Linked DNA regions of Homo sapiens: region 1 is linked to region 2. Evidence: fine-mapped expression QTL. A gene starts in region 2. The other region holds a variant in brackets. All regions are shown on one strand. Distances are from middle to middle. Region 1 overlaps LRRC69 (leucine rich repeat containing 69). Region 2 holds the start of LRRC69 (leucine rich repeat containing 69).

Region 1 (8,221 bases), 110 kb after region 2:
CGTTTCTGTTCTTATCACAGTCCAAATTGCCCTAAGGGTGGAATGACCATATAATGTGTCGTCTAAGCCAAGATGCTTTTGAGAGTAAAAGTGGATTTTATTAATAGCTGTAAAAACAACAGGAAACCAGGACTGTCCTTGGCAAATCCCAATGTATGGTTACCCTTGCTAAATGGAGTAGTTAACTTCAGAGCAGTACTCATGTCACTTATCACTGTGGCATGGCAGTGATAAATTATATTTAGTCATTCCATAAATTTTTGAGGGCCTGCTTTAAGCAGGGAACTGAATGCTAAGTACAATGCGAATAAGTAGGAGACCTAGTCTGTTCCAAATGGTTTAAAATTTGAGTTTAAATGCTAAAGAGGTAAAAGATATTAGCAATAAAATCTAGATATTAAATGAGTGATAGAGACCAATTGCTTTAGGATTCAAAGTGGAAGATGAGATCACTGTAGGTTGTCTGGTTTGGGAAGTGCCTAGAAACACAGGACTTGTATATAGCCTTGAAATAGGTGGAATTCAGATACATGGAGAAGAAAGTAAACAGAATGTTTTAGGAGAAGAGAATGGTAAGGAGGAGAATAAATCATGTTCATAGGGCAGTGAATCAGTTAGGTTGGTTTGTGGATAGGAGTGGCAGGAGGAGACATTATTAAAAAGTTGAGGTCACATGCCATGAACCTGTCAAAGGATTAGATTAAGTAAGGGGTTTGAACTTGATCTTGTTTGGAAATGAAACCCTACTGAACATGTGGGGGAAAACCGGTGAGATATATATGTGTTCGTGTGTGTGTGTTTTAGAAAGAGTCACTTGGCAATAGTGTGCTGGCTTAGTTGAAGTTTGAAGAGAAGAGAAGCTGAAGATAAGAGGCTAGTTAGAGTGGTTTCCTACTGTGGGTGTAAGGTGTGGTGGTGGAAAAGCAAGGAAAGTATCATAAGGAAGGAAGGACAATATAAATTGTTGATTGATTGAGCATGGGAAACCTCTGAGGGGTGTGAAGGAGAAAGAGTCCAGAAGGGAGCTGGTTTGGGAGGCAAGACCCCAAGTTGTATCTTAGACATGTTGAGTTTCAAGTGATGCCTGGATAATTCAAGTGAATACGTTTAACCCTCAGTTGGAGACAGACTGGCATGGAAAAGAAATATACTTCTTCAGTATGTTATTTGAAAACATGTGCACTTTCCAACAACTGTTCATTCTTCTAAACCATTCTGTAGTTGCTATTAAGCTATAATAGAAACCCTCATTAATGAAAGAGCCTGGGAATCATACAATGACTAACACTAAGCTATAATTTAGTGAACTTAGATTCTAATCTTGTCTCTACCTTGAAATATGAGGCCTAAGGTAAGTCATCTACCTTACTATATCAGGACTAATTTCCTCATTTGGACAATGAAGGGATTAGACCAGTCTCTTCTAGCATGAAAATGCATTGATTCCATAAGCAGGGAGGGCTGCCATTGTTATGCTTTTCAAGTCCTGCTAATTTGGAACATGATAACAGTATTAGTTTTCCATTGAAGCTGTTAACAAATTTCCCAAAGCTTGGTGACTTGACAGAAATTTTTTTTTTTTTTTTACAGTCAAGTAGATCAGAAATTCAACATGGGTCTCACTGGGCAAAAATCAAGATTTTGCAGGCTGGGTTTCCATCTGGAGGCTCCTGGGGGGAACCATTTTCTGGCCCTTGACAGCTTCTAGAGGCTCCCCATATCCATTGGCTCATGGTTCCTTTCTTCCATCTTCAAAGTCAGTATTGGCTGATCTAGGCCTTCTCATATCACCTCACTTGGACCTTCTCTTTTATCTCCTTCTTCCACTTTAACAACTCTTGTGATTACATGGCGCCCACCTAGGTAGTCCAGGGTAACTTCCTTATCTCAAGGTCCTTAATTTAACCCAACTTGCAATGTCCCTTTTGCTATGTGAGGTGACATGCATATTCATGAATTTCAGGAATTAGGATGTGGACATCTTTGGGGGGACATTATTTTGCCTACTGAGATACATTTTCCTGAGAAAACAGGAAACCATCTTATGCTCTTTTTCTATTCCTTGTGCTTCATATAATATTGAAATCTTATCCAAACTTTTTACTGTGCCATATAAATATATATTGCAATAATTTTTAATTTCTCAAAGTTTAAAATATGGCAGTGATGGTTACCAATTATGTTGAATGATTTTTAAAAATTTCTCAATTCTACCATTCAACAAACATAAAACTTAGCAAAGAGTAATATTTGAATTTAAAGTGGAAAACTACTTTTTAAAAAACACGTAGAGAATATAATCATGTGTTTGTTTGCTTTAGAAAATAATGCAAATATTAATGGTGAAAAAGTAAACTGTATTATAGCATTTTACTTTTTAAAGCTTTTTGCTAAAATGATATTTTTTCAAAATAAAAGCATATATAATCACAGACCAACTCCTTTTCCTATTCACTGACCTTGGCTTGACAGAAAGGATATTTCATTGAGTGCTTTGATCTCTATCTATAAACAATGACAAAAGCAGTATTTGTCTTTGACAAAATCATGAGGTTTTGTTAATTGAGGTTTGTGAAGAGAGGTCCTCTATAACAGGGAGTGTCTTATTCCTTTGTAACATGCTCATTTCAAATGGACATATGTCGTACCAGTAGAAACAGTTGCAATAATGCCACAAATAGAAATACAAATTTAAAAGGGCAGCAAGTGTTAAGGTGGTACGAGAATTTCATGTTATGCAAACATTACTAGAGATGATGAATCTAGATGGAAAAGTGTAATACCAAGAAATTATGCTGAGTTGTTTTTCTAAGTTAAATTTCTAGAAAACAATTCATAGCCCTGAAAAATATTGTATAAGAAATAGAAATTATTAAGTTGGAGAATAATCACCTTCAAAGTTTCATGTTCACTATAAAACTAACAACGGGCATTTAATAGACTTCTAAAAATCTCACCAAAATATTCATTTTATTATAATTAACTAAACAATGTTTCCCCCAAGAAGGGGAAAGAGGGACACAGACACTTTGCATTCCTGCTTGCAATAAGAGCCAACCTAAACTCTGCCCATGCGATGTCCTAATGACACAAGGGAAATGGCTAAAACCACACTGGAAATAGAAAATGCCTTTAATACTTTCTATTATAAACTTTTCACCTCATGAAGAAACTGGACAAAGCAAATCAGATGTCGAACTTGTTTCCTTAGTTTATATTTGTTTCTTTCTCTAACTTCCTCCTCTTGGTTCTTGGCTCTATTAATTGTTCAGGTTTCTTAAAGAGGAGCTGAGGAAAATGTATGTAGCATGTTTTATTTTCAATAGTTCTTTAATTCTAGCTGAGATATGTTACAGAAGTAGGCAGGATTAACTGGTTGGGTGAGACGGTTGTCTAGTATATGGAAAAGGAAAAGACCATATTTAGCCTGTCTTTTGCCATTTGTTCTCCAACCACAATTTCATCACTTAATCATTATAATCTAGTTAGGGAATCAATATTATATCTTATATAGTAGATTTAAAATATTATATGTGTCTGTCATTCAAAAATACTTATGAAATCTTTTTATTTCTGGACTAATGTATTGTTGATATCCCATGATTTAACATTTTATGGTCTATTTATAGTTTATACTGTATTGTTTCCCCAATACAATGTGCACATTCTTGAATTTATGCTCTCATAGTTCACCCTCCCCGAAATGTCCTTTTGGTTTCTCCCCAGGCAGACACATTCTAGTCAACCTTCAAAACCCAGCTCACCTTTTTCTTATATTGTGAAATCTTGCTTAATATGCAGCCTATGGTGTCTCCTGTCTCTGCACTCATATAGAACCTATCCTTGGGCTGAGCCATATGTTTCTATTTGTGTGTGTGTGTATGATTATTGTCTTTCCAACTAGATGCTAAGATTCTTAGAGGCAGGGATTGTTTGCTGTATATCTTTGTAGCCTGACACTTTGCCTAATGTGCAGATTTTAGGTAACTTATAATTTGTCAGGACTCGTGGTTGCAAATTAAAGAAACCCAACTCATATACCAACTTAAGCAATGAAGAAGGTCCAGGGATGAATCTGGCTGAAGATTTTGTCATGTCTAAATTAGGTTTCCAAATTTATCATTAGGAATCTGTCCTTTATTTATTATCTCTGCATTCCTTTGTTTTGGCTTTGTTTTCCAGTGGCTGCTGCCTAAATTGTGTCTTTTGGGA[G/A]TAAAGGGAGAGCTTCCTTCTCCCAATAGATGCAGAGAATGTCCTGGGGCTGATGTTCATTGGCTTCCTTGAACTGTCTTGCCTTATGTGCTTACCCCAGACTAATCACCATTGTCAGAGGGAAGCAATTGAGTCATTGCCTGGGCCGCAGTTACATGGTCATATATTGAGCCAGGGAGTGAGAAAAGTTGCTCTCTCACTCCCCCAGCATATGCACTGAGATTGGAGGAGTGGTAGTTGCCCAAAGGAAAAACAGGGCTTTTGTGCCAGCACAATGGGAAATGGATCCCAGACAGGAAAAACCAAGACGTCCACTGAGGAGTTCAGAACCTGTTTGCTGATTGATGAATTAATATCTTTGTAGGAAAAAAGTCAGGTTTGTAGATATTCTATACCATTTTTCACCTTCATCCAAAATATTTTACAGTTAGGATAGTGCTGTGTATCCTCTAAGTGCTTCACAGCCACTGTTGGAGGTCTGTGTGAAGGGGATGTGACTTATGACTTTGGCTCCCTGCTGATACATCACCAGGGTTAGAAGGCTGTTACTCTCTCAAGGGTGGATCAATAACTGTGCTTACCTGTCTGAACCTTTCAATAGGATCTCAGAGTTCTTTTGTGGAAGAGTGAACAGAACAGCAATCAAATCTCTCATTGTGGGTTGTGATGGTGTTGGCCAAATGGTTTCATGGTAAAACTAAGCAGCGTTATCAACCAATTAAATATTTCCCAGTTACCAGTTGTGGAAATCTTTTGGATTCTCTCACTGAGAGCTGTGTTGATTTCAGGACATGATTATAAAACATAGAAATGGTAAGCTTTTGAGGTTACCATTATTTCAAACATAAATGGTCAATATATGTGCACTAAATTGGCTAACAGGATTTTGACTGCTTATTTTGTACAAATTATTTTGAAGTACAAAAATTTAATTCATGTATTAGGCAACTTGCCTGAGACCCAGCCAGTGAAGATCTTAATGAATAGTACAGACAGTGAACAAAGAATTTTAGGAAGATTAATTTCCATGGCAACTGCATGCTGGGCAGGTAAAACCAAGATACCCATTAAGAAGTTCAGTACGTATTTGCTGATTGATCAATTTAATACCCCTGAAGGACAAAAGTCAGGTTCATGTAGATTCTGTATCATTTTTTCACCTTCATTTCAAACACTTTATGGTTAGACTACATAATGATATGTTTGAATAAAAGCACACATAATCTTTCATCATTTGGATTTTGTTTAGCATTTGAGTATGATTTTCTTAGCTAGTTAAGTTTGTGTTTTTATGTGTGAGAAAAGAGCAAATCAAGCATAAATAGAATAGTGCGTCTTTAGAAGTCAATGTTCTGAAACCTCTGAGAAAGCAAATATTTATTTTAATGAAAAATACTTATTGAACACTGCCTAAATTTTATTTTTAATCTTTACTTTTTAGGACTGGAAGATAAGCAAGAATCTGAAGCTGGTGCCTCTCCAAGTATTAATTTGTTCTTACAAATGTTTTACTCAACGTGACCCTAACCTCTTTGGAATTGCTCAGGTGTAGAACAGGTGAGGTGCTCATTCATAGCCTCACTCCACTTGCCCTGTCAGCTCTGCATACACAGATTATGCCCTACTTAAGATACCATGCCTGTTCTCTTTGTCAACACATTAAATAAAGGAAGAAAAATAATTCCATTATAACGTTCCCAATCTAAGCACTACAATCTGCCTTCAGCTTGCTTAGATTCTAGGTGTGCTTTTTTTGGCTTAAAAAAGTACAAAAAAAAATTGAAAAATAAAGATTTGTGTGGCAAGTGAGTTATTTTTTCCTGCTGTTTTATGACTACCACTCCCCTTTTTCTAGGTGAGTATTAAGAGACTTTGACGGGGAAAAGTATTTATTTTATGAATGTTTTGCAATTGAAAAGGAATCACTGTTTTGTGCTAGATAGTCGTATTATATTTGTGTGATTTCATTTGAGGCACTAATATCTACTGACCTTCACAGAAAAAATGAGTAGAAGCCTGGAAACTCAGGTTTGATAACCCCTAATATCACTTTGTGACTGTTTTTAATTTTTTTTTCTCGTTTTAAAAAAACTTTTTACACGACAAACTGCCGAGGCAGTAGTTCAGAAATGAGAATTGTGCTCATTTTCTTTAAGGACAACAGAAAAGTAGAAAAATAAGTTATGAAAATATGTGGTGTGCTTTGCACAGACCAGTGGTTCTTGGAATTGTGTTCTACTCAGCACCATCCACATCAGTTGAGAACGTGTTAGAAATACAAATTATCTGGCTCCACTCCAGAAGCACTGAATTAGAAACTTTGGGAGTGTGGCCCAGAAATCGCTATTTTAACAAACCCTCCACGTGATCTCTTTGCATGCTCTAGTTTGAGAACCACAGGATAGACTTAGATAAAGCTGCTGCATGTTCAGAAAAGTGAGAAATGTCATTATAATTTCATATTTAAACCCCACCAGAAATCTATTTCTTCTTGTCACTACGTATGGTCCTTCTGGTGGAAAGCTGAGTGGAGTCTCTCATCTTCCAGGTAGTTATTATCAGGTTACCTTCCTAGCAAGGCCTTTTATGAGTTTAATTCAGGTTCTTTATGCATCAGAGTTGCCTCTGGCATAACTGAGAAATGAAATCAATGGAGCACAGCAAAGAGATCCTCAAACCAGAGAGCAAAGTTCAGGCCCCACTGAGACAGAGATGGGGCCTCAAGGTAACTTTCTAAAGGCTCCATTAACCAAGAATGCATTTTAAACAAAAATAAAAAACCAAGTACAAATGAGCTCATCAAAAATGCGTTACAGGGGTAAAGTATGTGTGCTTATTTTGAGGGAAAATTGCTCAGTAGATTGATTTTGATTAGGGAAATAATTTCTTATAACCTAAGCTGTTGAAAAAGTGTTTTTGTTTTTTTTCTTTATTTCTTCTAAAAAAAAAAAACTGGGATACATGTGCAGACCATGCAGGTTTGTTACATAGGTATACGGGTGCCATGGTGGTTTGCCGCCCCTATTGATCCATCCTATAAGTCCCCTCCCCTCATCCCCTATCCCCCAGCAGGTTCTGGCATGTAATGTTCCCCTTTCTGTGTCCATGTGTTCTCAACGTTCAACTCCCACTTATGAGTGAGAACATGTGGTGTTTGGTTTTCTGTTCCCGTGCTGGTTTGCTGAGGATGATGGCTTCTAGCTTTACACAAGTGCCTGCAAAGGACATGATCTCATTCATTTTTTATGGCTGCATAGTATTCCATGGTGTATATGTACCATATTTTCTTTATCCATTCTATCATTGATGGGCATTTTGGTTGGTTCCATGTCTTTGCTATTGTAAATAGTGCTACAATAAACATACGTGTGCATGTGTCTTTATAGTAGAATGATTTATAATCCTTTGGGTATATACCCAGTAATGGGATTGCTGGGTCAAATGGTATTTCTGGTTCTAGATCTTTGAGGAATAGCCACACTGTCTTCCAGAATGGTTGAACTAATTTACACTCCCAGCAACAGTGGAACGCTCACCAACAGTGTAAAAGCATTCCTATTTCTCCACAGCCTCACCAGCATCTATTGTTCCCTGACTTTTTAATAATCACCATTCTAAGTGGAGTGAGATTATCTCATTGTGGTTTTGATTTGCATTTCTCTGATGATCAGTGATGTTGAGCTTTTCTTCATATGTTTGTTGGCCACATAAATGTCTTCTTTTGAGAAGCATCTGTTCATATCCTTTGCCCACTTTTTGATGGGGTTGTTGGTCTTTTTCTTGTAAATTTGTTTAAGTTCCTTGTAAATTCTGGATATTAGACCTTTGTCAGATGGGTCGATTGCAAAATTTTGGTCCCATTCTGTTGGTTGCCTGTTCACTCTGATAATAATTTCTTTTGCTGTGCTTCTAGAAGCTCTTTAGTTTAATTAGATCCTGTTTGTCAATTTTGCCTTTTGTTGCAGTAGCTTATGTCATTTTGTCATGAAATCTTTGCCCATGCCTATGT
Region 2 (8,221 bases):
ACCAAAAGCTAATCCCAGGCAGTACATGTGGGCTGGGTGCAGTGGCTCACTCCTGTAATCCCAGCACTTTGGGAGGCTGAGGCGGGTGGATCACCTGAGGTCAGGAGTTCAAGACCAGCCTGGCCAACATGGCGAAAGCTTGTCTCTACTAAAAATACAAAAATTAGCCAGGCATGGCGGCACGTTTCTGTAATCTCAGCTACTCGGGAGGCTGAGGCAGGAGAATTGCTTGAACCAGGAGGCGGAGGTTGCAGTGAGCGGAGATTGTGCCACTGCCCTCCAGTCTGGGTGAAAGAGCGAGACTCCATCTCAAAAACAACAAACAAGAAACAAAAATAATGACAACCTTGTGCCTCATTTGATTTCAGAATTGCTATGAACCGGTGGCTACTTTGTTCCTCTGATTTTTCCCTTTTTTTTTTTTTTTTTTTTGAATGGGACTAACTATTGCCTGCCCTTTGTTTTACCTATGTTGTATTCTAGGTATGTGTGGACAGATAACTTGTCTCTTTAGTTGATAGGTCTTCAGGTCAGGATGAACTGCACTCAAGCTGAACTCAAGGAACTGCCTCAGAGGAGCTTCATCTACCTTTGTACCTAACTTTGATGATAAGATCTTTGAACCTGAGGTTCTAAATAGATGAAACTTTTGGGGAAAGGGGCTTTCCAGGAAGAGTGCCTCTGTTTTGCATATGGGAGGAATGTAAACAGCTCATGGCTACAGGGTGGATTGTGGTGGGTTTTAAAACATGTCCACAAATTTTTGGTCACTTGCCTTCAAGAGGCAGAGTCTAATTTGTCTTCCTTTGAATATGAGCTCGTTTCTGTCACTTGGTTCTAATGAATAAAATGTGGTAGAGGTGATTCTGTATGACTTCTGAAGCAAGGTCATGAAAGTAATACAGCTTCCACTCCACTTTCTCTCTTGGGATGCTCAACCTTCAAACCAAGCCACCATGTTGGGAGGGAGTCCAAGCTACATTGGAGAGGCTACATGTAGAGGCTGACCACCCTGAGGCCCTAGCCAACAAGAAGTATCTACCACCAGATGTGGATTAGTGAACCTTTAGATGGTTTCTGCTGCAGACTTTGAGCTGCTATAGCTGTCACTAAGAGAACTATAGGCAAGCCCTGCCCAGATTAAGATTTGTCAATAAAGGCCAGGTGTGGTGGCTCACACCTGTAATCCCAGCACTTTGAGAGGCCGAGGCAGGCGGATCACGAGGTCAGGAGATCAAGACCATCCTGGCTAGCACAGTGAAACCCTGTCTCCTAAAAATACAAAAAATTAGCTGGGTGTGGTGGTGGGTGCCTGTAGTCCCAGCTACTTGGGAGGCTGAGGCAGGAGAATGGCATGAACCTGGGAGGCAGAGTTTGCAGTGAGCTGAGATCACACCACTGCACTCCAGCCTGGGCGACAGAGTGAGACTCTGTCTCAAAAAAAAAAAAAAGATTTGTCAATAAAATAAATGTTTTAGGCCATTAAGATGTGTGGTGGTTTGTTTCCCAGTGATAGATAACTGGAATAGACAGTATGAATAGGATTGATTATATATTGGAAGTAAGGGAGAAGAAAGACTCAAGAATGTTAACCAGGTTTTCTAGGTTCAGCAGATTAACAGAAAGCAGTGTCAGATTGTATTGGTTTGTTTACCTACTTAAAGCAGTAACAAATTTCCAGGGTTTGGACAGTGTCATCTGGGATGCTAGCCACCCGATATTTACTTAAGAGGTGGTGATTGTCATGGATTTTTTTTTTTTAAACAAAGCCTTGTGATCAGTTTGTTTTGATAGTAACAGCTTTATTATTCTTAGGAAACAAATAATATCAAAGTAAAGAAGACGAAGCATAGGTTTGGAAGAGGGAAGGCAAACAGCAGTGATTAAGAAGCTGAAAAATTATCTTTCTAGCAACTGAAAGTCACTATTAGCATCTCTTGATTTACTGTTATGATATTGATATTCATTATAATCCCTTTAAAAATTTAATGATCCTTTTTTAGAATTCTGGCACTTGATTTTACTCTCTTACTGGAAGAGGTCTTGTCTCTAATAGCATTCTCTCAGTGAGGCCTTTCCTGGTCATCCTATTTAAAATTGTAAACTTCTCATTTCCCACACTCCCTATTTCTCTTTTCTGCTTAGATTTTCCCCCTTGGCATCAAATCACCATCTAACATAATAGATTTACTTATCTGATTGCTTTTCTTCCCCTACTAGAATGGAATTTCCTTGAGAACAGAAATTTTTATCTTTTTCATTCACTCCTGCAACAGTGTTGACTATGTAGTAGGTGGTCAGTAAATATTTGTTGAATAAATAAATAAAGTGATTTCTGAATGCCAAAGGAAGGATTGATTTCTGTTCAGATCACTTTCAGTGCAGAATGTATTTTATAATGTTCAAGTTTTTGGAAACCCACATCTAAGTGTGTCACATACATGTGTAATCCTAATGCCTCTAAGACTCATCCTATCTGGGTGCTAGTGGGCTTGTGATAATAATCAAATGTTACTGGCCACAACTCCCCTCCCTCTCCTTTTTGTCACCGTTTAAATCTTTTATTTGGAAATTTTTAAACATATGCAAAAATAACAAGACTAATATAATGAATGCTGATATGGTTTGGATTTGTGTTCCCTCCAAAATCTCATGTTCAATTATAATCCCCAGTGTTGGAGACTGGGCCTGGTGGGAGGTGATTAGATCCTGGGGGTGGAGTTCTCATGAATGCATTAGCATCCTCTCAGTGCTGTTTTCCTGCTAGTGAGTGAGTGAGTTATCCTGAGATCTAGTTGTTTATGTGTGTAGCACCTCCTTCCTATCTTCCTCCAGCTCTGGCCATGTGAAGTGCTGGCTCTCCCTTTGCCTTCCACCATTATTGTAGGCTTCCTTAGGGCTCCCCAGAAGCTGAGCAGATGCCAGCACCATGCTTCCTGTATAGCCTGCAGAACTGTGAGCCAATTAACCCTCTTTTCTTTATAAATTACCTAGTCTCAGGTATTTATAGCAGTGCGAGAATGGACAAATACAAACCCCTATGTGTCTATTACTCAGCATTAATAATTATCAACATTTTGTCAATCTTGTTTGATCAGTTTCTTCCACCCACTTTCCCCCCTAGATTATTTTTAAAAAAACTCAAGATATCATTTTATTTCACTTGAAAATTTCAGTATGCATTTCTGAATGTTAAGCACATTTAAAATAAATACTACCACCATACCATTTTCACATGTAACAGAATTAATTTCTCTCATCTAATAGCCGATGAACAAATTTCCCTGAGATGTTTGTATTCAACTGAGGATTCAAATACAGTCCAGACATTGCATTTAGCTGTTATTTGCCCTAAGTTTCACTTACATCGTAACAGTTTTCCCTCCTTTTTATTAATGTCTTTCATTTGTTGGTGAAACCTTGTGACATTGGACCAGGGACCAGTCCTGTAGAATCTTCCATGTTATAGATTTGACTGTTTCCCTATAATGAACTTAACTTATTCTCTAGTTCTGTTTTTTTGTAAATGGTAGTTAGATCTTGAAGCCATGATTAGATTCAGATTTAATTTTTGGACAGGAACATTTCATAGGTGGTGCTGCTGTGTACTTTTTAATTCATTACTTCATAAGGCTTATAATGTGATTGTCTCAATTTTATTGATGCTAAAATGATTAGTGGGTTATTAACCTGATCACTTGATTATAAAGTTCCTCATCAACCTTTCATCTAATACTTTCAGTCTCCAATTATGATTTTTGCATAGCTCCATTATTTTATTAGAATTTGCAAAAATTGTGATTATTCTAGTTATTTTGTCTTTCTCATTTATTAGTTTCAATTCTTGTGAATAAGAACTTTATTAACTATTAAGTTATATTTAAGTGCAGTTTGTACTGGAAAAGCAGAATAAATGCTTATATTTTTTCCTTTATCAATTTTCAGACTGAGTTGGTGCGCTAGTAATTCCCAGGGTGAGTAATGTTTCTTTTTAAAAAATGCCATTATGAACTCAGATTTTAATGTGTTTTGATATGTTTCAGTCTATTCTAGATTATTTCTTTCTGATCCTTAATATTTTCCATCTTAGACTAGTGGGAGCTCCTAGAAGTTCACTTCTGTGTCCTCATTAATCTCTGATAGCTTTAATATCGCAGGCATAAGCTATTTTAGGCTTACATTATACATTTCCTGCCCCAAACCTGGACCATCTACTTTCCTTTCGTATCTTTCACATAGGAAAATAATCTAATGCTTCCCCCCTTCAACATGGTGGATCTCAGAATGTTCTTGTTTCTATGACACACCAATTCTGTAATTAGAGGTTCTAAAGCTGTATAATAAAGAACTCTAATGGTTACCTTGTTTTCTACTTCTTTTCCAAGATCATGACTGAGAGATTGTTAATAAAAGCATTGAGTGGTGGTAAAAATACGAAGATCATTACTTTGAATGGGAAGAAGATGACAAAGATGCCCTCAGCATTAGGAAAACTGCCTGGCCTGAAGACTCTAGTCCTTCAGAATAACCTAATCCCCAAAGTGTGTCCAGAGTTATGCAACTTGACCCAGGTGAGGAACAGTGTTTTGCTGTTGTGGTTTGGTATTGAAGATGGAAAACAGGAAGAGAGAAAAAAGGGGTAAGAGACAGAACAATAACACTTCGATCTATGGAGACTTAGGTATCTGGAGACTTAATGTGGAGTGTTGCTGGAGAGGCATCAGAAGGCTTTCTCCCTTAGGGAATTCCATGTGGTAGGGAGAGATGTTTCAATTTATTCATGTGCTCTTTGGCCCACATCTGGAGTCAGGGGACTAGGTCTCTGCCACACTCATCTTTTTAGAGGCTGTCATCTGGAAAGGGGTTGGAAACCTGGATCTGGTCGTCTATCTTGGGGGCTTACATCTGGAAGTAGTTTTGAGGATCCAGGAGATGCTGTTCACCCTGGGGACTGTCCTGAAGCTTTTGCATTTAGAATGAAGAGACATTTAGGATGCAGCAAGGGAGTTCCTTTTCAATTTCCTAGGGCAGGCTGAAACTTTGAAATGGAGTGTTGGCAGGGAATAGGAAGGAGGGGACATTTATTTCTCCTGAAATAGTCTTTAAAGGAAGTTTAATATTTTAAATAAAAAATATTCTTTTTTAAAGAGGAATAGTTGACATGAATGAATCCCATATGCTTGTGTTAAACCTTTCTGCCTAACAATGTGAAACTCTAGCTGCCAAAAATCTTGAGGTTGAGAGAAGGCAAGGGATATTAACTTTGTAATTTTCTTTTTGTTCACTGCTGAATTGTCATCAGCACAGGAAGAACCTAGAAGCAGCTAAGGCGTTATAGCTCATTAATTTTGAATTTACAGTTCCAAAAAATAAATCTGTATTTTCTTACTTTCACCCTACCTCATTTCCTTTTACGTTTAAGAAATTGAGTTTGTAATCTGTAGTTGTATCTTTATAAGAAATAGGGTAACTTTTACAAAGTCCCCCTTCATTAGTAATTGCAGAAGGTATACTTGTAGTTACAAGACAACAAGGACTTGGAATTTTTTAATAGGAAAGAGGAGTTTCTTTGCAAAAGAATTTGGGACTTGACTGAGTCATGAACCTATTCTCTCCCTCTATTTGAATTTATTTCCATTAAAGTAGTACTAACCATTGGTTACCGAGAATTAAATATTACAAAAAGCTTATAGCAAGAAGCTATCTTCTATCCCACTTCCCCTCATCCTCAATCCCGATCTCCATATATAACCACTTTTAACTCATCTATTTTATTGATTTGTCTATTTTTGGCATCATTTTTCTTCATCTTCTAGATACAGTTATATTAATGTATCTATTGTGTATTGATCCACATCTGGAATCAGGGGATTAGGTCTACAGGTATCTTTTACATGTAATGTTACTACACCTTTATTTCTTCCTTCATCAACTGCAGTCTCTTTTGACTCCCCACTTCGTAAGATGACAGTGTCAGCCTTTGTAATCCACCTTCAGCTGTCCTTTCCTCTCCCCCCTCACAAACTCTGAAGTTTTTACTTTTATAACACTTACAGCTTTTATATCCTATTCAGTTATAACCATAATTAAATATTTGTTTTGTGTCTTGGGTAACTCTAAACTTCTAAAAATATATATTACTAATAAATAAATATTCACATGGAGTCAATTAATCTATGATTATATTTTCTTTCTTATATGCCATTTTTGTTCCCTTGGAGTTTCTAATAACCTTTCCTTTGTTCTTGTGCCTTAGTTTTATGGTAGCCTCATTTTATTTCAAACTGTATAATTTTTTTCTGTCAAATGTACTTTTCCTTGAGAGACTTCCCTCTAAGACCCTCCATCCTCTGCCCCACTCTATGTTGACTGCTATCTAGGTTTGCTAGATACTGTCAGCCAAGGACATTCCCTTTGTTGCTCTCTTAAATTGGACCCACTGTTTCCTGTATCCTGTATTTTCCTTTCTTGGCTTGCTCTCTTAGTTTTTCAGGAGTCTCGAGAAATCATCCTAGTCTGGGTATGTGGTAGTTAAATTGTTTGATCCCTTGCATATCTGAAAATTTCTGTATTCTTGTCTCACACTTGGTTAATAGTTGTTTAGTAAAAAGTTACACATTCCAAGATATATTTCCATAGGAAAAAGCCCCAAGAGTCTGATTATCATTACATTGTCTTCTTCTTGTGGCTCCCTTTGTTACTTGCCCTCTCATTCTTCTATTTAGGGGTAACCTACGTGTTGACTTCTGTTTGTTCACTCTTAGTTCCTTCACCAGGGAGCTGTCTCAGCCCAGTGCTTACTTTTAAAGAAGAAATTACACCACTAAGAATTCAACTGATTTGCAACTAGGCTGCTTATAGTCTATTCTGTCTTTAAAGTACTTTAAAAGTCAGATTCAGGCCAATGGTATTATGTTTAGCTGTTCATGAACTAGTAGTTTTTCTTATATAGGGTCTTGGAGAAATTGTGGAATTTTGGAAAAAAAAACACAATTTTCCCTATGTAATGGGAGTTCTAGAAGCATGCTAGATAAAATGTGCTAGAAACCCTCAAAGAATGGTTGTAGATTATCATAGAGTTCAGATATACAGCTCCATCCGTCTCACAGTTGGTAGTAAAGGGCAGATGGCCCGGTGCAGTGGCTCACACCTGTAATCCCAGCAGTATGGGAGGCCAAGGTGGGCAGATTGATTGGGCTCAGTAGTTTGAAACTGGCCTGGGCAACATAGTGAGACCTCATCTCTACAAAAAAATAAAAATTAGCCAGGCACAGTGGCACGTGCCTCTGGTCCCAGAGGATTGCCTGAGCCCGGAATGTGGGAGGTTGCAGTGAGCTGAGATTGCACCACTGCACTCCAGCCTGGGCTGCAGAGTGATTCTGTCTCAAAAAAAAAAAAAAAAAAGGAAAGGCAGATGAAGGTTTCAAAGAAAGAGACAGCTTAGAGAATTGAAAAGGAGAGTTTAGAAGTGCTGGCACAACTTAACTGGTTCAGCAGTTACCAGCTATATACAAGGCACTTAGTTTCTTTGGGCCTCAATTTCTGCCTTCATTTATTTAATCCACAAATAAGCAATGAGGACCATCTGTGTCTCAGGCACTCAGAACTGGTGATTCAGTGATGAGCAAAACAGGTGGAAATCTCTGCCCTCATAGAGTTTATGTTTTAGTCAGGAATGATGTAAGAAACAAATAAGCAAAATAGGGCGTGAGGCGGTGATTAGTGTTAAGGGGAAAAATAAAGCAGAGAGAAGGGGCAGGGTGTATTGTGACATTCAGCTGACCTGACTGATGCCACAGAGTGTCTCTTGTGGGCTTTATAACTTGGTGATGTGTATGTCAAAATTCAGTGATTATAATTCTTATTCTAACAGTTTTCTCTAAAATTCCCGTGTACTTTTAAAGTTAATTTGAACTCTTTCTTATGTGGCTATAGTCATACCGTTTATCAGTAATGTTTAAAGCTACCCATCTACCTATGACTTTTGTTTCATTTTGTTTTATGTCTACAGTGTTTATCTTTTGAAGTAGCCTTTTATCATCATATGAAGTCCAGTTTGCCCCAATATACTGATTTTTTGGTCATATTTCCCACAGAATGCAAAGTATTAACATAGTCTTGATTTGTTTTTAAGTTCCTAAAACAAAAACACTACTTTTAAATTTCTGTACTCATAAAATGCTAATAGAATAACAACATCAACCATTCACTGGGAGCCAAG

What was found.
Region 1: its variant is fine-mapped to the expression of LRRC69 in whole blood (TOPMed, PIP 0.92).

The regions. Positions count from the first base shown.
Region 1 is chr8:91,213,237-91,221,457 of GRCh38, forward strand. It overlaps LRRC69 (leucine rich repeat containing 69), which reads left to right. Exons shown (of 8, transcript NM_001129890.2): 8 at 5,654-6,021. The coding sequence ends at 5,764. It also overlaps a transcript of SLC26A7 not described here. Among named protein-coding and RNA genes, the nearest start is that of MIR4661, 12 kb to the left of the region's middle. The variant G/A (reference allele first, on the strand shown) is at 4,213.
Region 2 is chr8:91,098,274-91,106,494 of GRCh38, forward strand. It overlaps LRRC69 (leucine rich repeat containing 69), which reads left to right and starts at 4,346. Exons shown (of 8, transcript NM_001129890.2): 1 at 4,346-4,571. The coding sequence starts at 4,389.